6 separate regions of the Homo sapiens genome follow, and all the other regions are linked to region 4. The links come from fine-mapping of genetic effects on gene expression. A gene starts in region 4. Each other region holds a variant in brackets. All regions are shown on one strand. Distances are from middle to middle.

Region 1 (5,191 bases), 50 kb before region 4:
ACCAATTAGTCAAGGACTTCAGGTTTGCCCAGCACTGCTGGAAGCTGGGAATACAAAAATGCAGCAAACACAGCCCCACCCAGGAGGACTCCCTAGGCTTGGAGGCTGGTCAGGTAAACATAGTGACAAGCAAGGACTGCAAGGACTCTAAAACCCAAAAGCTACATTTGCTCAGCAGTACTATGCGCCAAACACTTTGAATAAATTATCCCACCTAATTCTCAAGAAAAGTCTTCTAGGAGGTGCTATTTTTAATCCCCAGCTTGCAAGTAAGGATCTGAGGCTCAGAGAGATTAAGGCCCTTGGTTAAGGCCACAGAGCCTGTAGGTGCTGGAGCAGACTCTGATCCCAGCAGTGCAAGGCTCTGGAGGAGAATCTGTAAACACGACCTCAGGCTGCTATTGACAAGGGCAGCCCGTGGAGGGAAGAGAGGAGGCCTGAGATTAGAGCCCCTCGGAGGTGCAAACGTCTGTCTATGTTAAATTCTGAAGGGTAAGCAGAAGAGACATGGAGGTCAGGGTAGGGTAGGGAAAGGGAGGACAGAGGGGCCTGGTGAGGGCAGGCAGGGCAGGCATGAAGGTCTAGGGCCTCATTAGCAATCAGAAATGCAAATAAAAACAGAATAAGACATCTTTGACACCTACTAGCCTGGCAAAAATTAGAAGACACTGTGATGCCAAGAAGGCACAGTGATGCCAAGTGTTAGCAGGCATGTGCAGACACTCATGCCTCATGCCCTGTGAGTGAAAGTGTGGACTCATTAGCCACACTAGCTAATGGAGGTACAGGTGCAAGGACGTACCTGGAGGTACAGAGGCAGGTTACACACAGGCACACCCTAGGCCCCAGCAATTCCATTCCTGGGTAAATACTAGAGCTGTGCAAGCTACTGAGCAAATTCCAGAATGTTCTTATGTATGTTAAAGGAAGATAAATTATGGCTCACAAAGAATTTAAAATAGCATGGGGGAAATGCTTTATTATAATGTCAAGCTGGCATGAGTCAGGAAATAAATGGGATGACAGTAGTCACCTTATCCATAACAGAATTACCTGGGAAGTGTCCGAGAGATACATGCCAGGCACACATTAAGAACTCAGTAAAGGAGGCCGGGCTCGGGAGCGCACGCCTGTAATCCCAGCACTTTGGGAGGCTGAGGTGGGTGGATCACTTGAAGTCAGGAGTTTGAGACCAACCTGGCCAACATAGTGAAACCCCATGTCTACTAAAAAAAAATACAAACATTAGCGGGGCATGATAGCACTTGTCTGTAATCCTAGCTACTTGGGAGGCTGAGGCATAAGAATTGCTTGAACCTGGGAGGCAGAAGCTGCAATGAGCTGAGATTGCACCACTGTGCTCCAGCCTGAGTGAAAGAGTGAGACTCTGTCTCAAAAACAAAACAAAATAAACAAAAAGAACCCAGTAAAGGAATGCGGGCAAGGATTCTTACTTACAAGCATCATATTTTGGGACCTCTGTGCAGGTCTTTACAATCTTCCCCACTCATCATTCTTTCAGCCCACGCATATTTACTGAGCAGCTGCAATGGGCCAGGTAACGTTTGTGGGGGCTAAGTCTACAGCAGGGAACAAAACAGATGAAGGGAGCTGAAATTCTAGGGGAGGCAGAGACTATGCAAAGAAATGAGTGTGTAGAGGTCAGCTGATAGGGAGGAACATAGAGAGGCTGGAGCCGGGGACAACTCGCAGCGGGGTGTGGTGTGCACAACACCTGCCCACACGCTGCTTGGTATATATTCCGTGGTGAATTCCATCTTGCTGGAGGCAGCCCCCTCTTCTGGCACCACAGAAGTTTCTGCGTCTTGACACTTCTGCCTTCAAAATGCTCCTAGTTGTTCCACTTTCAACTGAAACAATTTAGATCATCAGGACTCCTAGAGCTTCTCACAAGTCACTGTGAAAAGCTGTTGGGTATGGGCCCACCTAGGACCTTTCCTGAGCCAGGAGCTCATGGGTTTGGACCCCTGTTCAGCAGAAACATGAATCCCCTGCAGGGAAGCAGGGTCTCTGGCAGCCCACCCCACCATAGCCTCCAGTCTAGAACAAAAGGACATTTGCTTGAGGTATCAAAAGCCTCAAAAAGTGCTCTTTCCTTCTACTGCATACGTAATTCCCCTTTTCGGAGTCTATTCCAGGAAATGGCTCAATGTGCAGTTTTGTGCCCAAAGATGTTTATCATGTTATTTTTTGTGGGTTTTTTTTTTTTTTTTTTGACAGAGTCTCACTTTGTCGTCCAGGCTAAAGTGCTATGGTGCGATTCCAGCTCACTGCAACCTCTGCCTCCCAGGTTCAGGCAATTCTTGTGCCTCAGCCTCCTGAGTAGCTGGGATTACAGGTGTGCACCACCACACCCAGCTAATTTTTGTTTTTGTGGGTTGTTTTTTTTTTTTTTTGAGACAGTCTTGCTCTGTTGCCCAGGCTAGAGTGCAGTGGTGCAATCTTGGCTCACTGCAACCTCCGCTTCCTGGGTTCAAGCAATTTTCCTGCCTCAGCCTCCCAAGTAGCTGGGATTACAGGTGTGCACCACCACACCCAGCTAATTTTTGTTTTTGTGGGTTGTTTTTTTTTTTTTTTGAGACAGTCTTGCTCTGTTGCCCAGGCTAGAGTGCAGTGGTGCAATCTTGGCTCACTGCAACCTCCGCTTCCTGGGTTCAAGCAATTTTCCTGCCTCAGCCTCCCAAGTAGCTGGGATTACAGGTGTGTGCCACCACACCCAGCTAATTTTTGGGGGTTTTTTGAGACGGAATCTTGCTCTATTGCCCAGGCTAGAGTGCAGTGGCGTGATCTCCGCTCACTGTAACCTCCATCTCTTGGGTTCAAGCAATTCTCCTGCCTCAGCCTCCTGAGTAGCTGGGATTACAGGCGCCTGCCACCGTGCCCAGCTAATTTTTGTATTTTTATTAGAGACGGGGTTTCATTATCTTGGCCAGGCTCGTCTC[A/G]AACTCCTGACCTCGTGATCCACCCACCTCGGCCTCCCAAAGTGCTGGAATTACAGGCGTGAAACACCGCCCCCAGGCCTATCATGTTATTTTTAATAGCAAAATGTAGAGAGCTCCTCCTGCATGCTCCACATTAAGGAAATTATTAATTAAACCATGATATGTTAAAATATCTGTTACAGGACAGAAGTTTTCAATCATTAATAATGATCATGAAGAATTTTAAATAACACGGAGGAATATCTACTACACTGTTAAATTGGAAACGAAAAGAGAAAAGCATTTCAGAATTATAATTCCAATTTTAGTATATGTTAACCTAGAGGAACCAAAATGCCGTGAAAGAAAACAGTATGAACTACTAAGATAGGTACTTTCTGGGAGAGTGGTTTCTGTAGGATTTTCTGTTTCTGTTTTGAGCTTTTATACTTTTCTCTGTTTTCAGGATTTGTTTCAGTGGTCATGGGTTACTTTTCTGAATGAAACTTCCAAACTTCCAAACAAAACAAAACAAAAACCTTAAAAATGGTGGTGCCTTTATAATCTTCTCCAGCAGCCCAACTCTGGGCAGAAAGCCTCCCAGAAGTCTTTGACGTGAGCACTCCCAAGAGCTATATAGAATGGGGAAGCCATCTAAGATTTAAAATTCTATTCCTAGAAGCTTATACCCAAAGCAGAGAAAAAGTAGGAAGCAATATAGAAAGCTAGCAGGAAGGAAAGTTCAGAGGATGTGGAAAAACGCAGACCCAGCAACATTTTTTAAAAATCTAAAAAAAATTGCAAATGGCTTCCCTGGAATGGTGGCTCAGGACACTGCCCCTAGATGCTGAGGCTCTCCAGGCACAGAAGGTTCCCTGCTTTAATTCAAAGCCCCATCACAGGCACAGTGTGGTTTGATCTCTACCCCTCTGGAAATGTGTTGCAATTCCAAGTCATAGCTGAGGGTCTGAGGCTCAGAGAGGTCAACTGACTTGCCTGAGGCCACACAGCCTGTGTGGGGCAGAGCAGTAAGTGGGACCTTAAGCCTTCTGATCTGACTCTCAGAGTACTTTACCCTGTACCCCAGCTGGTCCAGGGTGCTGAGGCGCTGGCACAGAAAAGCCTACGTTCATATCCAGCAGAGTCACCTGGTGGCCGCAGGGTCTTGCTAGTTAACCCCTGAGAGCCTGGGTTTCATCCAAAAACTGAAGACAAACATAACACTGGCCTAAGGGGCACAGTGTTAAGCACGTGACACTCCACAAGCACACACTAAATGGACACACTAATTACTGTCGTTATTTTGCCACCACTATCCTCCCTGGAGTACAATCCTTCTCTGGCCTCCTGGTGTGCTCCCAACACCCTCACCAGGCGAGGGAAGGGGCTCATCTCACTGTCTCTGTCCCTAGAGCCTAGGGCAGAGAAGGTGCTAAGAAAATGAGCACTGTGGGGAAGAGACAGGGATGAAATCTCTCAAGAAGAGACAGCCTTGCTGGGGGAGACATTCAGCACGGTGTTTCTAAACTTCATGGAGTTTCTGGACAACTGTGCTCAATTCACTTCTAATTTCAAACAGATGGGGCTGCGCTCTGTCACTCCCACCTGGCCCAGGGCCCTGGCGAGCAGCAAGGGGCCTCTCCCTTCTGCCCTGCTGAGAGGGGAGTTGCGTGGCTTCTGGGAGCAGGGGAAGTGGGTCCTAACTCTTCTGTGGGGGGTTGCTAATCTCCCAAACACCACAGAGAACATGGGAGACTGGAGGGTCCAGGTCTCAATTCACAGACACTGCCACACCCCCATGCACACCTCTGTCCTAGCACAAGTCACAAAGGTGTGCAGCTGTTGCTTTCTCCACCCTTAGAAGCAGTACAGAGATTCCACAGCCAAACCACCTGAGCCTCAATCTGGCTCTGCCCACTTTGCTGGGCACCCTCAGGCAAGTAACTCAACCTCCCTGTGCCTTCATTTCCTCCTCTGTAAAGTGAAGATGGTGATGCTTAAAGTGGCAGCTACTTCAAAGGGGCACTGGAAGGATGCATCAGGAGTTCCTGCAGAGCATTTAGAAGGGTCTTATTGCAGATGGAATGGCCACTTGTCCTGCTCTGTGACAAAGCAAAGTCGACTCTCATGGGACTCTCAGGACCTCCCTGGAGGCCTGCAAGAGGTCAGCACCATTCCTAGGTACCAGATTTATGACCAATTGACAAATGTCTGTTGAGCTTCTTGCTGGAGAACAAGTACAAACGGAC
Region 2 (4,000 bases), 110 kb before region 4:
CTTGATTCCACCACCCAAAGCCTGCCTTGAGCACAACGAAAGGGAATTCTCAGGCAGGAGAGGGCGTGCACGTCCAGAAAGCCAAACTCCAGCCCCTAGGAATGGACTGGAAGGGTGGATTCTGTGGGTCTCTGGTAAACCATTCACCTCTCAGTGTGGCCTCCTACCATCTCTAGGAGGCTGTCCCTTCCACCAACCCCACCCTATAGAGACACATAAGTGGCTTCTTCCCTGAGGCAGCACAACCCAATGCAAAGGGCAAGATGCTGGAGGCACGGGGAGTCTTCAATTCTAGCCTTATCCAGAACTAGCTGTGTGTCTCTGGGCAAGTTTCCTGACCTCTCCGAGCCTATCTAAGTTTGATAGAGTATGCAAAAGGCCAGTGTGGTGGGTACCTCACTTCCCTCCTTCTTCTGCCCTTTGCCCATCTCTTGGCCAGCCCCATGCCAGGGGCCTGCTGGGGAAGATGGAGACATGGAAAGAGATGGAGAAGCAGGAGGTGCAGCCTGGCTTTGAGAGTAATTCACAAACCGCAGCAAGCACAGGGGTCCCCGGAGAATGTGTTAAAACCAGAATGCGGGGCAGCCAGGGTTTCTGATTCAGTAGGTTCGAGATGGGCCTGAGGATGTCCATCTGTGACAAACTCCCGGGTGATGCTGCTGGCCCGGGGGACCCCACTTTGAGAATCTCTCCCAGTGTTTGACCTCTTCCCCCAGGGGGATAGCTAAGTGGGAGATGCTACCTCCAGCGGCCTGGGGATCTGGGGGCTGTCTTGCAACTCAATGCCGTACCTTAGAGCAGAGCCTTAGATGAGGAAGCCTGAACTTAGAACAGAGGGGCCGGGGCCTCCACTCACCTTATCCTGTTTCACTCTGATCTTTGCAGGAACCGGGATGTAGGTGCTGCAGTTGGAGAAAGAGAAGCTGGTTAATGGGGCAGGGGACAGGCCCAGGAACCTGGGCATGCAGCTCTGGGGGTAGTGGCTAGATAATGAAGCAGGCATAGCCTCTCCTGCCCCCCATAGCTTCCCTCAGGGACCCCCACCTCCCTACCCCAGCCGGGTTTCTGCCCACAGCAAGCCCCAATAGACACCAGAGGACGGCCTTTCCTAATTTGAGGACATTCTGCTGGGTTTTGGCCCCATTCCCCAAAAAGGTGAGGAGGACTTGCTCCAAGCACAGCCTTAAGGAGTGGAGTGGGGCCGTGGTGCCTCCACCTCTCAGGGCCAGAGCACCTTTGCCCAGCTGCTGGGGCACTGGCTGGTGAGGCCCGCGGCTGCCCCTTTCTCACCTGGGCGGTTGCATGCACCCTGAGTGCAAAGGTGCCAAAGCTGGTCCCACGGGTGTGATTCCTGCTCCCAGAGAGACTGCAGCTGAGCCACTTCTGGACCTGGGTCCCACCCCACCCCACCCCGCCCCGGTCTGCCTCCCTCACTCCCGGTCTCCTGAGGGCACAGCTCCACAGTCTCCTGCACCCACATCCGGGGGCTAGCTCTGTTCCTAGAAAACCTGGCAGAAGACAGACAGCTTGTGGAAACCTGGACATCAAAACACTTCCCTTCAGTAAGGGTCAGATGACAGCACAGGCTCTGTGTCGAGTTCAACCCTAGGCAAGGTGCTTGGCCGAGCTCCAGAGTCCTCACTGGGAGGAGCTAATGATAATGGCTATTGTGAGGATTCATTGAGATAATATGTGCCGAGTGCCACGTGCGGTGTCTGCTCAGGAAACTAAGCTCCTGATTGTCAGGGAAGCCACAGCCGCGTTGCTCAGCACTGCTTGCCCTGGGGAGGGGCCCAGGCTGCACCTGCACTCCCCACTCCTCATTTCTTAGGAACCCTCACCCTGCCACGCTCACATAAGTTTGAAAAATAAGGTGTTGTTATTTGTCAGGCTGCACTTCAGAAATAAAGGGAGGCTGAACTCACATGGGCTGACCCTTTCTAGTGGCGGCCCCTTCCCATAGAGTCTCCAGGGCGCGTGGAGGTCCCTTCAGGAATTGTTAGCAAGAGGACACTAAAGCTTGTGGTTTGTTAAGTGATAGGGAGAGAAGAGTTGGAGTAGTCGGGGAGGCGGCCACGGGAACTGGGCTTGTGTGTGCCGGAGGAGGCTGGGGGAGGGGAGGCACCCCGGTGGAGGCACAGCAGGACCACGGCAGGGTGGGGGGACAGGGTGCCACTGCAAGGGGCAGAGCAGCGAGGCGGGGCCACAGGAG[G/C]GACTCACTGGGAAATGGTGCCCGTGGTGATGGCGCTCACCACCCACTCCAAGTCGATGGTCTTGAAGGGCACCAGGATCATGCTGACATTATCTCCCAGCTCCCGGAAGCTCTCAGGGTACACCAGATGGTGGGTGGTCTTGGTCCCAACATCAGCTTCAAACCCTGCCGTGGGCGCCTTGTTCATCCTGGGAGAGAAGGGGAGAAAGCTGAGTCTTGTAGCACGGGCACCCGTTCTCAGACAGCCTGAGAGCTCCGAGAGAGTGAGCCTCCAGTGTGACTTCAGGGGTGTCACCTGCCTTCCCCGGGCCTCCTTCTCCTCATCTGTAAAATAGAGACAATGAAGACATAGCTGGAAGGCTTCTGCTATTTTTCTCTCTTTCATGACCTCAAGGGAGTCTAGCCATCACCACCACTGCCCGCCTGTCACAGACAATCTCATCCAAAGGATATTTCCACAGCCCTTTTTTTGCAGTCAAGGAAACCTGACTCTGATCCTTACCATGGATGTACCCATGGGACACCTGGTACACTGAGGCTCTGAGAGGCAGGTAAGTGGTCTAAGGACTAAAGTCAGGAATCACAGACAGGAGAGACTATTCTAGAAGGCTGCTGGGGATGGCCAGCCCCCACCCCTGCACTTCTCAGCGTGGAACACTTGTGAGTGGTATAGTGGGAATGGCAGGAGACCCAGGACAGACTTGGGGCATCTTCCTGAAATGTCTGTTTCACTTGGCGACAGGGGAAAATATATTTTACATAAAATATGTGGTTTTATTATGGCCTAGATTACAAAATGGGGATGAATTTTAAAGATAAGAGTCCTCACATTAATTTTGCCCTCTCCCCAGGCCTCCATGTGCCAAGCTCCCAACAACGGGGGACCTCCCGTGTATGGCTTCCTCTCTGCACGCAGAGGCCCTTCTAGTCCATTCCAATCCTGCAATGATGCAGAGATGGGGAAGCTGAGGCCCAGGGGGTGCAGTGTGGAGCCTGGGGTCCCTGGGTAAGTTCAGTCCCAGGACTGAACCTTGCCTTCCTGAGCCTGAGCCAAGATGCTTCCTACAGCTCCAAGGGGCCCCTGGGTGCAGCACGGTAGGCTTGGGAGAGGGTCTGGCACTCACCTGAGGACAAAGTCGTGACTGTCTATCTCAGGCCCATAAGAAGACTCCCTCAGGTTGCCCGAGTTGCCCACAACGGCGCAGCGCCGGCAGCCCACCGACCTCTTCTCCAGCATAGGGTCCACATTCCCAGGCACCACTCTGAACAGCTCCTTGATGGTGTCATTCAAGTTATTGGGCTTCTTCTCCCGCTGGAGCCTCTGTGGGCGGAGGACAGAAGGTGGTCAACCTGGCTTTGTGGCTCCAGCCTCCTGGCAGCAGAGCCCCTGAGCTACCTGCTGTCGTTTACTGGGGCCCTCCTGTTCACCCTTCTCTCTGCTGGGCCCCCGGAGATGGAGGCGGCTCACACACAGACACCTCCACTTCCTCCTTCAAGGAGACTAAGGGTTACTCAGGAAGTAAAGAGAGCATTCATGTATTCTGCAAGTGTTTACTGAGCACCTACCATGTGCCAGGCACTGCTGAAGCCGCTTGGGTGATCCAGCCACACCTGGACTCACAGGCCCCTCCCACTCCACATGTGATCAGCGTTTCTCCAACCTGCTCCTCCCTGGGGGCTCCTGTCTCTCTGAAAGGCCCTCCATCCCCCTACGTGTCACCACTTGAAAGAGAGAAAAATAGCAGAAGCCTTCTAGCTGTGTCTTACTCCCACCCTGCTCAGACACCA
Region 3 (5,191 bases), 81 kb before region 4:
TTGGGAGGCTAAGGAGGGTGGATAACTTGAGGTAAGGAGTTCAAGACCAGCCCAGACAACATGGTGAAACCCTATCTATAAAAATACAAAAAAATTAGCTGGGTGTGGTGGCGGATGCCTGTAGTCCCAGCTACTCAGGAGGCTGAGGCAGGAGAATTGCTTGAACCCGGGAGGCAGAGGTTGCAGTGAGCCGAGATTGCACCACTGCATTCTAGCCTGGGCAACAGAGCGAGACTCTGTCGAAAAAAAAAAAAAGGAGAGAGAAAGTAGAATGATCTTCGTCCTTGCTCACTGAAAGCAACATCACAGGGTGGGACAGAGGCTGAGATTATTAAGGAATCACACAAAAGACCAGCTGTGATGGTTAGATTTAATGTATCAGCAGGCATGTGGCTTGCCCCTGTCATCCCAGCTATGTGGAGGCTGAGGCAGGAGGATCACTTGAGTCCAGGAATTCAAGGCTGCAATGAGCTATGATCATACTCCAGCCTGGGGGAGCGAGACTTATCTCTAAGTAAATAAATAAATGTAATGAGCCAGCTTGGCTAGGCCATGGAGTCCAGTAGTTTGGTCAGACACTCGTCTAGGTATTTCAGGGAAGGTAGCATGCAGATGTGGTTAAGCTCTCCAATCAGTTAACTTTAAGTAAAGGAGATGAATGCAGGTGGGCCTCATCCAATAGGTTGAAGGCCTTAAGGGCAAAAACTGAGGTTCCCTGGAAAAGAAGAAATTCTGCCTTAAGATTGTAACAGAGAAGTCAAGTCCTGCCTGAGATTTCAGCCCTCTGGCCTGCCCACCAGGTTTTGAACCTGGCAGCCTCCACAACTGCCTGAACCAGTTCCGAAAGTTGAATCTCTTAATATGCATACACAAATATGGGATAGGCTCTGCTCCCCTGGAGAGCCCTGACTGGCAGCCTTCAGTGCCACGAGCAGAGGGCGTAAGAGGGACTGGCTGATGTCTGGGGGAAGTGGTAGTGACTGAGGGTCCACAGGGTGGACAGGTGATTGGGCAGGGAGTGTGAGAGCCTCCCAGGCAGGGGAAGCTACAGGTATGAAGGCCTGTGGGGACAGTAGGTGAGTCCAACGAACTGAAAGAAAACAAAGTCAAGTGGATTGGAAGACTGCAGCGGCACTGGCAGACAGGGGGGGCCAGGCAAGGTCTGGTGGCCCCCCTAAAGTCTGGACAACCTCCTGGGAGCCACAGGAAGCCCTGGAGGAAGGCCAGAGGGAGAGAGGGAACTGGGGACAGGCAGTGACTGCCTTGGCGCCCTCCCTGTGGGACAGCCAAGGGCTGATGGTCCCTTGCTCCTGTCAAATGACCCCATCCACACATTAGCTGTGTCCTGGGGGTCTCAGTAAGTCTATGTCCTCTTGTCCCTTCAGCCCTAGGGTTGGAAACAGTCCCACCATTTCCAGCCCCAGGGACTGCACCACACTTGCTGTTTCCTACACCACACTATGACCTTGTGAATGACCTTTCAACTCAGCTCCCCTCCACTGCCCACTTTGAATGCACCATTTGTGTCCTGCCAGCACCATGACCAGTCCAGGTGACCCCGCAGACCTAACTCCAAGGGGCACAGCTGACAATGTGGTCTAAGCAATGAGTGCCCCAGGAGCTGTGCCCCACAGAAAGCCATGCCTCCCGCCCCTCCCCGGACACCCCTCTGAGGCGCTGGCCACCTCAGAGGATTTGCAAGAAGCACGTGGGTCAGCTGGATGCCCTGAGCCCTGGCCTCCCCTCCACCTTGGGTAGCTGCTCTCGCTAGAATCTGCCCAAACTCTGCTCCAACTGCTGCTGGGGCACTCACCCATCGGGAGATTTCATCCTCAGGCTCATGACACTGATAGGGTCTTTGGCAGGGATGGCACCAGGGGATCCCTTGCACCACTCAGCCAAGTTCAACACATTCCAGGTCCCACCAGGGGGACACTCCAAGAAGCCTGTCCCCCAAGCTCCCTGATGACAGCATCAGTCCCTCCCATAGAAATGTAGTCAACACCAGTAGAGCCAGAGGGCAAGGTCCCCTTAGCCCGCCCATGGCTGCTCCAATCAGCGCCTGTGGCTTGACCACCGCCCACTCCTGGGCCCCTCTTGGAGTTTGATCTGCTGGGTCCTCTCCTGTTGTTCTCTGACTCCTGCCGGGCTTAAATATCAAAGAATCCTCATTGTTTGATAAGCCTGCAGACAAAAGCCCATGGAATATCTCTAACTAGATCTAGTGGCCTCTGGTCTGCCCCTCCTTCTCTCCAACTCACTCCCTCCCCAACTTATCTGTGCATGCCTGACCCATCCATAGCTAATACATTTCTTGTGTGTGGATGCCTGGCGAAAGTCCCCAGGGGCTCTTCGGGCAGGCATTTGCTCTTTGGGCAGAGAAGGAAGTTGGGCTTTGAGAGACTACGCAGTATTTTAGGGACTAGCTAAAGTGCAGTTCCAGGTCCTATGAGGGAGGTGACACCATAATCCCATTTTACAGAAGGGGATGCTGAGGCCCTTGGGTATCAGTGGCTTACTCCAGGTCACATGGCTAGGAAGGGGTGAGGGCCGATTCCTGAGCCTGCTCTTCCATGCTCCACTGCCGTACCTCACCCAGGTACCCAAGCATGCCTGCGATGCTTCAAGAACACAGCTGGCGGCATGCGTATCTTCACTGCTAGATAGCGAAGCCGCACACTAGGCCGGCTCCAGGATCTAGCCCAGGGCAGTTCACACGCATAAATCTGCTCAGGAGGAACCAGTGCCTCCCAAGACATGATGCCAAGGGCCTTAGTGATCCACAAGTGGCAGGTGAATGACAACCAAAGGGAGAGGGAAGGCTGTGTAAGGCAGGTGGCCATGGAGACAGGGGGCATAGCACTGATGGAGGAGGGCAGAGGGGGAGGGTAAACCAGGCCTGTGCCCAAAAAAGCACATGGTGGTGATGATGGAGACGCTGGTATGTTACAGAAAACAGGGCGCCCTTCAGAGGGGCTGCTGTGGGTGGAGCTGGATCGTGGAAGTCCTGAGGAACGTGGACTTGGGGACTGAAGGCAAAGGGGAGCCCGGCTGGCTTGTGAGCAGCAGACAGTAGTGATTGCAACTGGCACATCGTGGCTGGACTGGAGAGGGGTGCACAGGACACCCTGTGGGAGTCTAGAGAGTGGCCC[G/A]GTCTCCATGAGCATGACTTGGGAAGTCCGTTTCCTTTGGAGCCTGTTTCCCTGCTCCTTTCTGCATCGGCGCCTGCCCATTTGCCCCACAGCCCAGCAGTGCCAGCAGGTTGGGAGAACCCTTCGATGTGCTTGCAAATCTTCCTCTTTGCACCTTAGTGCCTCCTGCTTGTTCCTTTGCTGGGGAAGTCGGGGAAAAAAAAGATTCTGCTGAAGCACAAATAGTGGCTCAGAGTAGGCAGTGTGGAGAAGTGCCCCAGAGAAACACGATTAACCAGGATTAGGGTCACATGAGAAGGAGGCGAATATGTTTTCATATTCATAGCCTCACAAAAAGAATTTAAATCCACAAATCTTCTTATGTGTGTGGATCGAGGAGTGCTACATTTGGAGTCCTAGGATAGCCAAATGACATTAGAAGCGTGTAACGTGGCTGGGAATTCCAGGGGTTGCACTATGCGCGCACCCAGGCTCACACCTGTCCCAGAAGAAAGGATTTCCCCCCATTTGGGTGGTGCTGGAGGCTGATAAAGAAGAGACAATTCAGAGCTCCTAATGCCCCTTACACCTGCCCTCAGGCATCTGTCGCTGGTTCTAAAACCCTCAGCATAAAGGAAGGGCTGGAGGTGTGGCCGCTCTGGAGCCGAGATTCACAGTCTGACACGTGGCTTAAAGAGGCCCCTTTCTCCCTAGTCCGTGACTTCACGGAAATATTTTAATGCTACTGATTTTCAGGGGCATCCAGGAGGTGCCTGAAGGAGCTGAGGGGCAGCCTCTAGCAGTGTCCCTAATGGGGATTAAGATCACGTTATAAACCCAGCTACTACAATGGCGAGGCATGCAGCACCCTCCAGGGTTCCGGGATGGGTGGGAGCGTCAGGCGACAGCAGGCATTTCGCATGAACCATCCCATCCCTACACACTGAAGGTTGGAGGGGTGTCACGGTGTCCAGTTGGATCACAGGATTAAACTGCCCTGGCCCAGGCTCAGCCCCACCCCCATACCTGGGCCCCAGAGGAGAGGAAGAGTAGCTCTCATCAGAAAGGGCCCAGCAGTCAGGAAAGGAGGGAGACCTTGCCCTCTTGACCAGGGGCTGCCAAGCTGTCCAGTGGGAGGAGCGAAAACATGGGTGGCCGGAGCATATGGGCAAGGATCGGCACCACGGGGTCAGGGCATGCTCAGAGCAGCTGAGGCCTGGCAGCCCTGGTGAGGCTCGGGATGGACGATACGAGGGGACACTGGGCAGCTTGGACCAGCAGAGGCCCAGCAAGCAGGTGGGAGAACAGAGGCCAGTTCTGACCAGGAGGCATTCCCAGAGCCTGTCCCTGGGGGTCAGGAGGCGTGGACCATGGAGAGACTGAGATACTAGTATTGATGTCTCCCCAAGTGCACCCCCAGCTCATGAGTCCTGGAGATGGCTGGGGAAGAAAGCACTGGGTCCTGTCCCTAAAGTGCACCAACTCTGTGCCAGGCTCCAAGTCAGCACTTCTCTTAGGTTGCTTGTTTGACCTCAACAGCTTTACCAAGGGGTGGTATGTTCTCTTTCAAAGTGAAGAAATGGGGCCAGGCGTGGTGGCTCAAGCCTGTAATCCTAGCACTTTGGGAGGCTGCAGCAGGTGGATCACTTGAGGTCAGGATTTCCGAGACCAGCCTGGCCAACATGGTGAAACCCTGTCTTTACTGAAAATACAAAAATTATCTGGGCGTAGTGGCATGTGCCTGTAATCCCAGATACTGGGGAGGCTGAGGCATGAGAATTGCTTGAACCTGGGAGGTGGAGGTTGTAGTGAGCTGAGATCGCACCACTGCACTCCAGCCTGGGTGACAGAGCAAAACTCTGTCTCAAAAAAATAAGATAAAAGGTGATCCAAACAGCCCGGCTCCAGAGGCCCAGCTCTTCATGCTAAGAATCTACCTTTCGGCCTCAGCTGGTCTCTCTGGATGGCGCCCATACCCCACCTCGGGGAGCGTCCATGCGGCAGGGGGAGTTCACCTCCACTCAGCCCTACTCTGCCCACTCTCCCCACAAAGTGATCAC
Region 4 (4,583 bases):
AATGCCGGCCCAGAAAAATGCAGGGAAAGCAAACTTCAGGGTTTGTGGGATTTTGAAAAGGCAAGAGGAGAAGGAGCCCTCTATTCATTCTTTATTTAGCAAAAAGTGTACGATGGAACTTTTTTCCCTAGACCTGAAGTCAAGGTATACACATACACACATGTAGAGTATGAACTACCTATACATACACACATTCACTTAATTATATGTATTATCGCCACTCGCAATTATGCAGAACGTATTTTGGAGAATGTATTATTGGCCTCATTTTGCAGATATAGAAACTGAGACGCCGAGAGGTTAAGTCTGGCGACCAAAGAGAGACAGAGACAGAGAGACGGGAGACTAGAAGAGGCCCCACGCTGTACCCAGATATTGGCAGAGGCTGAGGGGCACGGAGTGGTGAACTCTAGTCAGTCATTTCAGCCAACCATGGGATTTCAGAAAACAGCCGGCAGGGGTCCTAATGTTTGGGGCAGGAAGGGGAGGTGCGGGAAGGCACTGAGGGACCCCCGCACTGGGCGCCCCTTCCCCACCGCAGAGACAAGCGGCAGTTTCCACAGCAGCCGGCAGGGGGCAGTGCACCTTGCCTTTTCGAAGCCTCTGGGCGCTTGGGCAGCGCGGGGTAAAGAAAATCAGGAGGCTCCGCCCGCAGCTTCTACGAACAGGCCAGGAGTAGAGCCCCCGCACGTAGTAGGTGCTCCAGGCACGTCTAGAAGCCTAAAGGGCTTGGTCGATACATTTGAACTCCATTTTAGAGACTGGAAGGGAAGAAGGGGGCGTCCGGGCCCCTGCCAGCACCTTCCACCTTGGGGCCTTGTCAATGAACACTGCGTTAGCACCTACGACGTGCCAGGCGCCCTGGCGACTATTGGAAAACCCGGCTCCCCTCTCACCCCGTTTTCCTCGTTGGCGAGTCGGCCTCGCCTCCTCCTCCCGTCTCTTCCTCTCACCACACACACCCAGCCGCAGAGCGGGGGTGGGCGCTCGCTGTCTCCCTGGAGAACCAGCTCGTCGCAAACTTGCGGGGCTTGGGGACCCGCGAGGGGGAGAAGTCGGGAGAGGCCAGGGGTGCCCGGAAACAATCACGAGAAAGCCGGGCGAATGCCTGATGCAGGGACGCGGCGAGCCAGTCACTGCCCTCAGGGTCACGGCTGACTCCCTCTGCGGGACTCGCCCAGCCCGCGAGACGCAGTGACCTGCCCAACCCCCACCCCCTTGCGCGCTTCTGGGTGCGCACGTGTCCCCTCGCCCAACACACCACCGAGCCCCGCGCATGGTACGGCCGCCGAGGACCCTAGCGTAGGAGGGAGGAGCGAGTCAGGGCTCCAGCTGACGAGCAGAGCCAGACGATCCCCACACGCTTCCTGGGAGACCCGGCTGCAAGGCCAGGCTAATGCGCGCTCCGACGTCTCTGTGCCAAGCCGGGGCGCAAGCTCAACCCCCATCTCAAGTTCAGCCGCGCTTCCTCCCGCAAGGTCACGCTTAAACACTCGCGCAGAGAAAGGAGGAGCGGAAAGTTGCGCCACCGTCCCGATTCCAAACTAACTGTACCCTCACCAGAGCGCCTCGCCCCAGGGTCACCGCTGTCCGTCCCCGTGCGCTCCCAGAAGGGGTGGCCCTGCCCCCACGCAGGTCACACACACGAGAGACACAGGCAAGTTGCTAACTTTTGTCAGATTATTTCTTGGGAGCTGCGACGCCTCACGGGGTTGGGGCGGATTCAGAGTTTCGAGTTGCCACTAACACGACTCCGGCCGTGCTCTCCTTGGCCCACCCGCGTCCCCCACTGTCCGCCACGCCGCGTTCAGCTCTCTTGTCCCGGGTGTCAACTTCACCCCCAGATCCGGAGCAGCGCGCTCTGACGGCGTCCCCGGGGCCGATAGCCACCTCCCGGATCTGCGCCTGCTTGCAGCGGATTGGGGGACTCGATCCGGATACTGTCCCACGGCCGCTCGTCCAGAACACTGGCGGCCTCCGCGGTGTCCCAGCCTGTGACCCCAAATCCGCTCGAGAGCGCCTGAGCCCGGCCACCCAGCGAGGTCTCCTCCCACGGGCGGCCCCAGCGGAGGAGATCCCAGCCCGGCGCCGGGTGCAATGTCACTGGGGCTGCTTTCGGGAACCGCTGCCCGGGACTTGGCGTAGGTTCCCCACAGAGCTCCAGGCAGCTCCTCCAGTGTCGGCCGAAGACCCCTAAGCCCGAACCTCCACCCCGACCTTCTTCCTCTCCCAAAGCCCTGGGTGGTCGCCGCTGCCAAGGAAGGGGTCTCCCTTCGAATGTCTTCCACTAGAATCCCGGGGTCTTCAGTCCCAGCTCCACTGTCACACCCTCCTAGTCCCCTCCCCACCCCTTCAGTTCCCGGGTCCAGACAATCAACCTTCCACTCCGAGAATCCACAGGAAACTGCCCGAGCCCCAACTCAGGCGGACGCAGCCCCCGCGCACCCCGAGCAGGGTTCGCCTCCGCGCGCGCACTCACCACGGCTGGAGACACGCTGGAGTTTCCGGGATTTGGGCATGAAGGGGTTCGGAGGAGAATACAGGGGTGTGGGTGTCCCGGACACTTGCCCCCTTCCCAGCTCACATCGCCTCTTCCTTCTCTCTCCGCTCTTCTTCCTCCTCCTCCTCCCTCCGGTCTAGGGCTCTTTGTCTTTGCAAAGTGTCGAAACTGTCTGGCATAGTGGGCTCCGCCGGCGGAGGCTGGAGCCGAGGAAGCGAGGAGGCGGGATGAGGGTGGGAGAGGGCTCGGGAACACCTTCCCCCGGGTGTAACGGGAGTGAAAGGCGGGGCGACCGAGGAGGGGCCGCCTTCCCTGGCCGGCCGGGGCCGGGTGCCAGGGCGCGCCAGAGCCCAGCCACCGCCTCCCCTGCGCGCGGCCCTCCCCTTCCTCCGCCCAGTGCCCGCCCCTCCCGACTCTGCGCCTCCGTTCGGCCCCGCCCACCCCAACTTGGCTCGGCTTTCCCTTGGCTCCGGGCTTCCTGCAAGCCGAATTTAGCTCTGCCAAGCCACGTGGACCGCAGCGGGCTCGGCAGAGGCCGAGCCTGGGAGACGCCGGAGGCGGCGGCTGCGGCGCGGGGACCTGATCGGCGCCCCGAGAGGAGCTCCCCGCTCTCTGGACGCGGCCCTCAAGCTGGCGGGGCTAAGGAAGAGCGCCCGGGAGGCCCGGGAGCCACTGGGGTCCGTTTCAGCAGGAAGACGGGCACGCACCGAGAGGATGGCAGTGCCCAGAAGAACTCGAGTCGGGGGCACGGTGGGGAGAAGGGGCCGATCCCCTGCTGGCGACCGGGCAGAGCCACCCACTTCCTCTAAGGGCGCGGGACTCGAGGTGGGATTTAGGGAGGGGGAAGGGAGGAGCGTGGGCTGGACGACTCTTGCGGCCAGAACCGCGTTCAGAGCCACAGAGCCGGGCACTGCGGCCGGCCCTGGTCCCGGCCCCGGCCCTGGCCCAGCCCTTGCCCTGGCTCGCCTGCCGCCGCTTTTTCCTTCCAGATGCGGAGGCTGCGGCTGGAGCTTGGGGTTTGCGGATTAGGCTTGCAGTTATTCAGCCCTCCCTCTTTTACAGGGAAGCGGGGGCGGTGGAGACTTCTTTTGCTGAAAGGCAGAGTGCAGCGCTTTGATGCTAAATGCAGTACACAAGTCATGTAAATCTGGTTTTACGGTTCTTAACCCCTTACTGAGACTACCTCTTTCGCAACTTTTCGGAGGAATGTTAGAGGAAAGAGGCACAGTTTGCCTTTGGGGTCATTGCATCCTTCCAGCGCCCCTTGCTCCAGCTGGAGAGAGATCAACCTTTTGCAGTGGAAGGGGAGAGTCCCCCAGCCTTTGTTTCATCAGACGGCTGCTGTAGTACAGGGATTCAGGCCAGGGCCCGCATGGCCGGACTTCTTGGTTCAAATCCTGCACTGCCACTCAACGGATGTGTGAGCTTGGGCTAGTGACTGAACCTCCCAGCCTAGGTGACTCTGTGCCTCGGTGTCCTCATCTGTGAGAACCGACCTAAGAAGTGTCTGTCTGATAAAGCTGTTGTGATGAGTTAGTGAATTCGTACACATAGAACCTTTAGAACTGTCTTTGACATGTAGTAAGTCAGCTGTGTAGATGGTGGGTTTCTCCAGTGTCAGGTCCCTGCCCACAGCAGGAAGATGACCTGTGCTAGAAGATGGGGGCTAGGGTGTTGGGGAAGACTTCAGGGACTTGGGAGAGAAAAGGAGAAATATTCAGAGATGAGAAAAGTAGAAGAAAAACCAGCTTTTAAAAGGGGGAGGAGAGAGAATGAGAAAAATAACTACTAGAAAGGGAAGGAAAAGATGAATAGCCTTTTAGGTACTTCGGGACCTGCTCTGAGACCTCTTGCCTGACGCCCTTGGTTTTTGATAGAATTCTAGAGAAGGGGTGAGCCCTTTTGTCTGCCTGGACACATCCTGTGGGCTTTCCTCTTTCTGAAACTCAGGTCAAGGTGTTCACTGCATCTCCAGATTGCTTGTGTGCATGGGAGGAGGGGGGCAGAGAGTTCTGCTTACATCGGCTACTGTCCCCTCCACCAGCAGCGTCTTCCAGCAAAGAAGAGCTTCTAACATGCACCA
Region 5 (5,191 bases), 92 kb before region 4:
AGAGCTCGTGATGCATGTAGGTACAATATACACAGGAATTGTTAAATGCATGTTATTTGCCTTTCTCTCTACTTCATTCTCTTCCAGATTTTGGATTTCAGCAACAAGCACAACAACAATGGTATGCTTAGAGAGTGGCCCAGGGTTCCTTTTACCTGGGCATTCAAGCTCTGCCAATTGGCCTCAGTTCCATAAAAAGGGGCTTTAGATGGTCCAGGTTCAAGTTCTGATTTCCCAGCTGTGGAGCCTTGGGAAAGTTATTTGACCTTCCTGACCCTCAGTTTCTTCTTCTGCAAAGTGGGATACTAACACCCCTACTTATAGAATGGTTATGAAGATAAGATAAAATGATGTATGCTGGGCTTCTGGTATCTATTAGGCCATTGCTGAACTTTAATTTTTCTTCTTCAACATGTGAATGAATCAATATTCTCTGATGATCCACTAAGAGCTGAGAGGATGAGATATTCATGCATACGTATCTCTTCAGATAATCCTCAGAATATACTGTCAGCTAGATATTAGTTTCCCTTTTTGTCTTGGAAGAAACTGAGACTCAAAGTGCTTAGATGACTTGCCTAAGGAAAGGAAGGAGCAGGATCCGAGTCCAAATCCACAGTCCTCTGATTCCTTACATCGGGAGGGGTTGGGGGACCAGGAACAGGGGGTTGGGGGGCTCTACCCTGGAGCAGACACCTGTCTTGTTAACTGGTCTTCAGATTACTACGGCTGGAGGGATATAGAGCAAGGGGGGAGTATTCTTTTGAAGAAGGCAAACAGGTACCTCTCAAATGCCCATCGGAGACCCCTCTGGCTCTCACCGACACCTTGGGATTTCTGTATGGTACAACTGTGGTTGCACGTCTGCCCTGGAGCGTGGTCTTTTTGGTCTTTGCTTGGAATGCTGAAGAATGGAAGAAATCTGATCGATTCCTCCCCATTCTCAAGGTGTAGATTGTCAATAAGCAGGGTATATTTTTTTCCAGGAAAATTAGAGTTGAAAGGAGATTGATCACCTTTTGGTAGAAAGGGGGACAGCTCCAAAACCATATTAAATCCACAGTGCCCTTCTGAAGACATCCAGGGCCCAAGATGCATAGGGTGCAACCCTCTACAGCTTCCAGAACTAGAAGCCCAACGTATGGAGGACAAGGTCTGAGCTCTGCAGCTCAGTTGGCAACGTCATTTTTATCCGGTCTCTGCTCCAGTTTTCACTTTTCATGACAACCTAGATTTTGTTTATAACCTAGTGGTGTCCACAGGTATCCCATCCAATTCTCTCCCCACCTGCCCCCATCAAGGAGCAGCTCTGTAATTTAAGTAAGAATAACTTCTGCATCATCACAGATAGGCTCACAATTCACTTGACTGGCAGAGGGTTCCCACCTCTTACCCCAGTAATTGATCCAGGGATGGGCATGTGCCTTAATTCATCCAGCCAAGCTTCTGTAGGGAGGGAAGAAACTTTCTTTTGCTCTGGCTGGCTTGTTGTTGACATGTGGAACATCCTGCTGGCTATTTTGCTAGCGTGTGTAGAAGAGACTAGAGCTGAACAACCCGAACAAATGGTGCTAAATCCCTGATCCTGCTCAACCTGCAGCCCCACCCTCACCTTGACTTTTCAGTTACATGAGGGAATAAATCCCCTTTATGGGGTAAAGTAGGTTATTTGTAACTTGAAGCAATGTGACTGACCCAGAGGTCACAGTTGCTCCTACCTCCGTGTCCCTGCTCAGGCTGTCCCCACTGTCCAGAAAACCACCCCACCCTGCTTTGCCGATGGCTCTTACTCATTCTCTAGGGCTCAGCTGGTGCTGACTCCTGGAGGAAGCCCTGCCCTCTCCTGGGGTGAGTTAGGGGCCTCTCCTGGCTCCCTAGGGTCCTGGCTGCACTCTGTCTGTGCTCTTCACACATATGTCTCCTCCCTGGACTGGGAGCAATGTGAGGATGGAAACTCAGCCTCACTATGGCAGTGACCCTGTCACCCGTGCACACACTCAATGCTCAGTGGAGGCTTGGGTCATGAAGAAACCCAGAAATGAATGAAGGGAAACAAAACGGCCAACAGTCCAGAGGGAGAACTGAGAAAGAAAGCACAGACTCTGAGTCACATTTCCATTCTCAGCAGCCTGTCCCACACTACTCACTGCGTGACCATGAACAAGTCACCTAGCCCTTCCGAACCATCCCTTCAATGGGAAAAACGGATTGATAACACAAATTCTGCTCATTTCTCGGGGCCGTCAGCCCATCAAGGTTGTCCATTCATCTCATTCATTGACTGCATATTTGCTGGTCCTTGCGTTCTCCAGGCCCTGGACAAGGTGGCTGGGGTGCATCGTAAAAGGATCTAAGGTAGGCGCCTCCCAGGCATCAATAGGGCCCCAGACCCTGTGGAGCAAAGGAGGCCTGTATGGCTGGATCAGACACAGTGTGGAGGAGAGGAGTGGGTGGGGGGTGAGGGGGAATCTGAGCATGCAGCTGGGGTGAGAGTGTGTTGGGCCAGAGAAGCCACAGTCAAGACTAAGTTTTCTCTGGGTGACATAGAAACCTGCTGGTGGGGCTGAGCAGAGGAATGCCATGGTCTTACTACATTTGCCTTTATAATGAGCAGGGCCTAGGACACCCTTGCCCTTAGTGCCTCTGCACCCCTAATGCCAGGGCAGAGATGAGTTCCCTGAAACAGATGACTGTTGATCCGTGTTGATCAAACAAGGCTCTGGATGAGAGGTCAGGTTTCCTACAATGTCCTGCCTCTGCGTGAGAGATATTAATGCTCTAGGCTGCTGCTAGGGATGGCGTGAGAGGCAGGGCAGAGGGCAAGGTTGTGCTGCACAGGTTGTGGGACTGTGACAGCCTCCTCTCCTCTGGGGCATCCTGCAGCCACACCTCCAAGGCCAGGGCACTCCCCATAACCATCAGAGGCTTCTGAGCTGGTATCATTTAGCGCTTTCCAAAGCCCTGGATAAAACTGCAATGGAAAAGCAAGAACACCGCTATACCCCTTCCCTGGCTGCAGGGAAGAAACCAGGACTGCATGTCTTCTCCGTGCTCTAGCAAGCGTGGGGCAGCCTGCAGGCATGGGGGAATGCCAGCCCTGGCTCCCGGAAATGACATCTGGGCCA[A/G]GACGCCACAGACCAAAGATCTCTGCATGTCAAGTGTGCGGTGAGGGAGGCCGGGCCCCCCAGAACAAGGAGAAAGAAGAGAGGGAGCAGGGAAGGATGGGGAAGGAGGGAAGCTGGCTCCCTGTCCTCTGCCAAATGGCAGTCATTTCCCAGCCACATGCTCAATACGAGGAGGCATGAAGCACCTGCACACAACAGAGCTTAGCGGGGTCACCAGCACAAGACTGACAAATGTCAGCACACTTTTGGGGACTGAAAAGTAAGAATTTCCCTAAGGAGAGTCCCTAATGAAGATAAACTCCTCTGGCAATAGGGAGTTGAGGGGCAATGACCAGAGACTGAGAGAACTGTGTGAAACTCCTGGAAACACAAATGAAGGAACCACACGGGGTTTTGAACCTGTAGTAAATACCCACTGAACGGGATGGTAGTAAATACCCATCACAGGCTGGGATGCCCTCCCAGCCCTTCACACAGCCCCTGGCACTATGGTCACTAGAGAAATGCCTGAGCGAACTGTGCAGGCTGTTGGCAAAATTGACGCTTTCAATACAGAGTGGCCACAACTTTCCTCATGTGATCCCCAAGCCACCAGGAGAGGTGGGTAACCCTTACGCTTGTCTCCCTGAAATGAAAAACTAAAACCCAGAGAAGGCAAGTGACTTATCCAAGGTCACACAGCAAAATGGTAGCAAAGGCAGACTCCTGCCTTCTCCTGTGGCTTTCTGTGTAGCCGTGGCTCATCATTCAATTCCATCAATACCTGCTCTTATCTTCCCTATCTTCCCCATTCCCTTTCTGATAACTTCTTTGGACTTGGTTTACTGTCATCTTTCCAGCCTTGTTTACTCCCCCTTCTTGCTGTGCCTACTCTATTTGAATTATGAATTCAGTTCTTCATTTCAGTGGTGTCTTTTAGTTCTGGAATTTCTACCTAATTTTTTGACAGGTTCTACTTTGCTGGTGAATTTCTCCACCTTGTCATCTATCTTTGTGCAATTTTATTCACCACAGCCGTCTTAAAGCCCACATTGGATATCCTGTGATACTTGGATAATGTGGGTGTATTTCTATTGTCTATTTTCTCGGTTGCTCTTTCTTTCTTTGGTTATTTGGTTCTGTCCTTGGCAGGCCTGGTTGCTGTTTGTATTGTGTATGACAAAAATGCAGAGGCTCTGGATGAGGCTGTCCTCCTTCAGAGAGGACCGGTTGTCTCCTGATGAGCAGGTACAGAAGTGGCACATTACTTTGTTCTAACTGCAGCTGTGTTTCACTTTTCATGAAGACTGGTCTATTTCTGGTTTACTCTTACCCCTGGGGCATAGCCGTTCTCAACAGGTAAACCAAGATGCTTATCAGGGTGACTCTTCCTTACAGGCTCCTATCTCCAATTTCTGTCTCCCCTGTACTATGAGATCACCGTAAGCTTAACTTTTTAGCCTTTCTTTTTTGTTTGTTTGGGTTTTTTTGTTGTTGTCATTGTTGTTGTTGTGTTTTTGGTTTTGAGATAGAGTCTTACTCTGTCGCCCAGGCTGGAGTGCAGTGGCCTGATCTTGGCTCACTATTACCTCCACCTCCTGGGTTCAAGTGATTCTCCTGCCTCAGCCTCCTAAGTAGCTGGGACTATGGGCACATGCCACCATGCCTGGCTAATTTTTGTATTTTTAGTAGAGACGAGGTTTCTCCATGTTGGTCAGGCTGGTCTCGAACTCTCGACCTCAGGCGATCCACCCACCTCGGCCTCCCAAAGTGCTGGGATTATAGGCATGAGCCACCATGCCCAGTCTTTTTAGCTTTTCATCTGCTGTTTTCTGCTTGGTTTCTTAGACTCTGGACCCATGAAACTTAAGTGCTGGCAAATGCCTTGAAAGGAAAATTTTAGAAGGCACAGAGCACATGTTCTTTTCTTTGTGGTTGTTTTTGCTCTAGGTTCTTGGTTCCTTGGGTTTTGGTTGACCTAGCAGTCCTGAACTCACTGACTCCCTCTACCTACCTACCTATCTCTGTTTTGTTTCCCCACCTTGCGAGACTGCCAAACACTCTGAACTGCTGCTCTCTGCTCGTCC
Region 6 (5,191 bases), 30 kb before region 4:
CCCAGGACTCCTGAGCTCAGCTGATTCCTGAGAATGCAGTCCCTGATGTGGGATCACAGGTCAGCCCGCAGAACTTCAAGGAAAGTGCCTTCGAAAATCCCAGCAGAACCAAGAAGAACGAAGTTCTTTCGCCCTGTTCCCTGAGCCCAAGCACAAGGACTCAGAGGATCCAGAAGGCAAGTAAATTCACTGTACCATGGAGCACCAGGATTCCCACCGCCAACTCCCCTTGTGGCCAGCTCACCCGGCAGGCAGCAGGTAAGAGAAGGCACTCTCGCTGACACTGCAGCTCACAAAGCGGGCAAAGAACCAGAGCACGTCCAGGAAGCTGACGCTCCAGCCCCTGGGCTGCACCCCACTTATCTAGGGCTTGCATTTTATTTCAAAGTCATAACTTTGCATTATTTTTCCTTAAAGAAAACTCCCAAATTGTATAAGCTTCAGGACCCAAAGAACCAGAACTGCACCTAAACATACCACCGATTTATTAATTGATCTTTTTCTCCCATTAAATTATTATCATCGGCCAGTTATGGTGGCTCATACCTGAAATCCCAACGCTTTAGGAGGCTGAGGCTGGGGAATTGCTTGAGCCCAGTAGTTCCAGACCAGCCTGAGTGGCACAGCAAAACACCATCTCTATAAAAAATATAAAAATTAGCCAGGCATGGTGGCGCACGCTCGTATTCCAGCAACTCAGGAGGCTGAGGCAGGAGGATCGCTTGAGCCTGGAAGGTCAAGGCTGCAGTGAGTTGTGATGGCACAACTGCACTCCAGCCTGGGCACCAGAGTGAGACTCTGTCTCAAAATAAATAAGTAAATAAAACAAGGAAACAAATAAGTTATTAACATCTTGAGGACATAGCTCTCATCTTATTCTGTTTTACCTCCAGTGCTCAGCCAAGTGCCAGTGAGCTGGAAGGCACTCAGTAAGTATTTACTAAATGACTGAATGAACAAGAAGAAAGGAAAAACAGCCTGAATGAGAAGCTCCCCCGCTCTTCATTTCACTCACGCCACTTGGATCCATCCTCAAAATCACCCTCTACACATTAATCCGCTAATCCTTCTCTCCCCATCAGCCTTTCAGATACTCCAGAGTGCTCCCAAGTCTCCTCTCCCCTCCCACCCCAAACAACCCCTGTTTCTGCCACTGCTGCTCTTAAAGGTTATCAGCAACGGAAATTCCAACAGCTCCTCGCTGCTGCCCATCGGAATATTGAACGACTGCCAGGTTGTCCTCTTATCTAGTCAGAGTGCCCTGGCCTGCATTCGGTCTCTGGGCCAGCTGATAACACATTTTTGTTGTTGGAGGAAATGCTTTAGCTCCAACGGGGAGTGTCCACCCATGTGACACTGCCCAGAAGGAAAACAGGCCTGGTTCTCTGAGGGGAAATGACAGCAGCCACAGCCCCCTGAAGAAGACTGAATCAGTCCCTGTGTATCCTTTGATCAACAGCCCCTGCTCTCCTTCTCACCTCCCTATTTGCTCTTTCCTGTCCGTCATGTGACTTTGTTCTAGAAACATTTCCTGGAAGAGACACTCCTTGACCACCACACCCATGCTATGCCCTGCCCTGGGACCCCCTGCCCCTGCCCACACCATATATATATATACAGACATATATATATATAGACATATATATATATATAGACATATATATATATATAGACATATATATATAGAGACATATATATATATAGACATATATATAGAGAGACATATATATATAGACATATATATAGAGAGACATATATATAGAGACATATATATAGAGACATATATATAGAGACATATATATAGACATATATATAGACATATATATAGACATATATATATAGACATATATAGACATATATATAGACATATATATAGACATATATATGCAGACATATATATAGACATATATATATAGACATATATATGCAGACATATATATAGACATATATAGACATATATATAGACATATATATATAGACATATATATAGACATATATATATAAACATATATATATATATATATATATATAGAGAGAGAGAGAGAGAGAGAGAGAGAGAGAGACTGTGTGTCTCTCCCTCTTTCTCACCCCTAGCTAGGATCTTTGTCTGATTAGAGCAGTGCCTGGCACAGAAGAAGCTCAGAAATGTTTGTCAATGCCTGCCTGAAACCAACATTTATCTGGTGCACATTCTGCATGTTTGCTGGGAGCTGGAGACACAAATGTGTTTAAGTTAAGGCCTCCACACTGAAGCAGCTCTCCCAGGAAAGCACTCTGCAAGAGAACAAATGCTCCCTCTGCAGAGACGCCTGGTTCTGTAATCACACCCTCAACCTGATCAAGGTCTTCACAAGGACAGGACAGCAGTCCTGCATCCCCCACAGAAACTCTCACTCCCACATGCAACTCATACACCACCACGTGCGTCTACACACACCTCCTAACAGGACTCCATCTGAGAGATGCAGACCATATACACGGTCCACATGTTTTGGCTGGCCTACACTGTGA[C/G]GGCCAGACACTGCTGTCAGCAGGGACAAATGCTTCCCCAGTCTTCTGCTCTAGTTTCTGTCCTGAGAGAGGTTTCTCCCTAGGCCTTTTGATCAAAAGCCGAGGGACAAACAGGTGCTTGCTATAAGCTTGCTGCTTTACCAGCTGTATAATCTGCACAAGTTAATTAGCTTTTCAGAGTCTTGGTTTGCTCATCTGTACTTGGGCCACCGAGTTGATGTCAGAAGTAACAGCAAGGGAAAGGGTCTGAAACTGGGCCTGAACACGGTTTAATAAATGCAGTTGGTGGCGGCGTTGATAGTGAGAGTAGAATGACTGTTCAGCATCATTCAGATAGACATGAATTTCCAGAATGTCCTAGCATAATTAGTATGAACCTATGGTGATTTTAATAGATAGATAGGTCAATTTGAAAATGATCTGAATGATGTGTGGATATACATGTGGATGTGATTATGTATGTATATAAATGTGGGTATCTGTGTGATACACCACACACACACACACACACCCACGCACACACAGACACACACATCCCAGTTATGTCTGCTCAGAGGGCCTAGAGGCAATGCTACCCCAGAAACAGTGAGCACACCTAGTGGCCAGATCTTGGTTTCTAAACACCATTTTCCATGGAAAGGAACCAGGGCTCCTATGTTGATTCCACCACTGAGGTGAGGAGAGTAGAAGATGAGGCTAGAATACCTTGCTATGACAACAAGGCAGCAAGTGCTCAAATGACGATGGAGAAATGTTAGAGACACAGGAGCCAGGCCCTAGTGGACAGATTTGGGGCAACGTAAATGTCAAAATAACTAATGATCACAAAAGACTGCAACCTATTGAATAAAGTTAAAATCTGTGAGTCCACACTGATATAAAGAAAGGAAGGGCTGGGCATGGTGGCTTACGCCTGTATTCCCAGAACTTTGGGAGGCCAAGGCAGGCAGATCACTTGAGGTCAAGAGCTGGAGACCAGCCTGGCCAACATGATGAAACCCCATCTCTACTAAAAGTACAAAAATTAGCTGGGCATGGTCGTACATGCCCATAATCCCAGATACTCAGGAGGCTGAGGCAGGAAAACTGCTTGAACCTGGGAGACAGAGGTTGCAGTGGGCAAAGATCAAGATTGCACCACTGCATTCCAGCCTGGGTGAAAGTAACTCCTCCATCTCAAAAAAAAAAAAAAAAAAAAAAGATGAACAGAGGAAGAAAATTTCTTCTTTATAGTAGGAAACCAACTAATAAATGAAAAAGAACCAGCAAAATTTAAAAAATCACCATTTGGCAACTATGATAATAATAAATCTATTCAGGCAAGAATCATCAAAAGATGCTAAAACTAATGACTGATAGACTGAGGACTAATCAGAAATCTACACAATCCCGGAAGTTCTCCCCATGAGATGCTTATTAATTGCAAAGGTGAAACAATAACTTTGCAGTGGAGACACCTGGAAGACACCACCTTAACTGAGAGCTCCAAGCTAACATCACCAGTAATGGGAGACAGCCACACCAGTGCCTCTTGATACAATGCACTGAAAAGGACACATCAGCTCTGGGCTAGTCCTGCCAACCTAATCAGGAGGAAACATCAGAAAAGCCAAAATTGAGTGCATTCTATCAAATAACTGGCCTGAACTTGTCAAAAAGGTTAACGTGCTGAAATACAAGATTAAGAAAGTTTTCCAAGAAAGACACATGCCAACTGGCTTTTCTTTTGCCTTGAAGGAATTTAGCAGGGGCAAGTGATGAAATCTGAATGAGAAATCAGAAGGTTAGATAATAGTCAAATTAATGTTAAGTTTCTGACTTAGAAAGTTGTGTTCTAAGATGCAAGTTTCTGATTTCAGGAAAAAATATAGAGAAAAAAGAAAAAATGAACATAATAAAATGCGAACATTTGAAAACCTGGACGAAGGAGGTCCAGGAATTTGTTGGCTGTTCTTATAACTTTTCTATAAATTTGCATTTATATAAAAATAAAATAATTGAAAAAAATTAAAAATGGAAACGAATGCTCTGGTTTCATGAGATTGAGAAAAAAATCAATATATTACTTAGTGCATTGTATGTGCCAATAATTTAAAGCTATAATAATTATTAGTAGTAATAATAATTATCAGTAGAACATGCACCTGGCACATAATAAGCTGGGAATGGACAAAAAATATTATCACTGTTAACATCATCATCATCATCATCATCATCATCATTCTGGATATGCTTGATTGTAAGAAAGAACTAAAAATTTAATACTACTATTTGTGTTACTTATAATTACTTCATATCTGCGTTAAACTCCATTGTTTGAAGGTTTGTTATAGAAATGCCTGCTTAAAATGCATACAGCACTCCTCTGTAATGGTGAGGTGCTTGAAGACCAACCAAAAGAAAGAGGCAGGAGGCCATTTTCAAATCTAGATGTGCAGAATACATATCAATTGGATCTTTTCTCATCAGTGGAGTCTCTGCTTTGTTCTTGCTTGTGCTTGGGTAACCCAACGATAAGAAAGCCCAACTTCTAAATGCCAAACCTGGGGCCTTTGCCCAGACCTGTAGGCCATCTAGAGTCTCTTCTCTGTTCCTTCTTGGGTCCCTTCCATACAAACTGTGCATCTCAATGATCAGCCCTTGTTATTCCCACTTGCACTGGCTTATGCACCAAGCAGAA

What was found.
Region 1: its variant is fine-mapped to the expression of ST3GAL1 in whole blood (TOPMed, PIP above 0.99).
Region 2: its variant is fine-mapped to the expression of ST3GAL1 in whole blood (TOPMed, PIP above 0.99).
Region 3: its variant is fine-mapped to the expression of ST3GAL1 in whole blood (INTERVAL, PIP 0.99).
Region 5: its variant is fine-mapped to the expression of ST3GAL1 in whole blood (INTERVAL, PIP 0.95).
Region 6: its variant is fine-mapped to the expression of ST3GAL1 in whole blood (GTEx, PIP 0.95).

The regions. Positions count from the first base shown.
Region 1 is chr8:133,518,556-133,523,746 of GRCh38, forward strand. The region is part of intron 2 of ST3GAL1 (ST3 beta-galactoside alpha-2,3-sialyltransferase 1); the gene reads right to left. Among named protein-coding and RNA genes, the nearest start is that of ST3GAL1-DT, 49 kb to the right of the region's middle. RefSeq lists an enhancer at 5,102-5,191. The variant A/G (reference allele first, on the strand shown) is at 2,964.
Region 2 is chr8:133,462,558-133,466,557 of GRCh38, forward strand. ST3GAL1 (ST3 beta-galactoside alpha-2,3-sialyltransferase 1) reads right to left here. Exons shown (of 10, transcript NM_173344.3): 6 at 3,337-3,533; 7 at 2,221-2,400; 8 at 857-902. Among named protein-coding and RNA genes, the nearest start is that of ST3GAL1-DT, 110 kb to the right of the region's middle. The variant G/C (reference allele first, on the strand shown) is at 2,213.
Region 3 is chr8:133,487,725-133,492,915 of GRCh38, forward strand. All of the region lies in intron 3 of ST3GAL1 (ST3 beta-galactoside alpha-2,3-sialyltransferase 1), which reads right to left. Among named protein-coding and RNA genes, the nearest start is that of ST3GAL1-DT, 80 kb to the right of the region's middle. RefSeq lists enhancers at 757-1,540, 3,018-3,563. The variant G/A (reference allele first, on the strand shown) is at 3,153.
Region 4 is chr8:133,569,214-133,573,796 of GRCh38, forward strand. It overlaps ST3GAL1 (ST3 beta-galactoside alpha-2,3-sialyltransferase 1), which reads right to left and starts at 2,674. Exons shown (of 10, transcript NM_173344.3): 1 at 2,480-2,674. It overlaps ST3GAL1-DT (ST3GAL1 divergent transcript), which reads left to right and starts at 1,359. Exons shown (of 2, transcript NR_186509.1): 1 at 1,359-1,657; 2 at 1,845-4,583. RefSeq lists enhancers at 434-503, 461-1,314, 674-893 and silencers at 2,684-3,173, 3,364-3,423.
Region 5 is chr8:133,476,885-133,482,075 of GRCh38, forward strand. The region is part of intron 3 of ST3GAL1 (ST3 beta-galactoside alpha-2,3-sialyltransferase 1); the gene reads right to left. Among named protein-coding and RNA genes, the nearest start is that of ST3GAL1-DT, 91 kb to the right of the region's middle. The variant A/G (reference allele first, on the strand shown) is at 3,126.
Region 6 is chr8:133,539,091-133,544,281 of GRCh38, forward strand. All of the region lies in intron 2 of ST3GAL1 (ST3 beta-galactoside alpha-2,3-sialyltransferase 1), which reads right to left. Among named protein-coding and RNA genes, the nearest start is that of ST3GAL1-DT, 29 kb to the right of the region's middle. The variant C/G (reference allele first, on the strand shown) is at 2,512.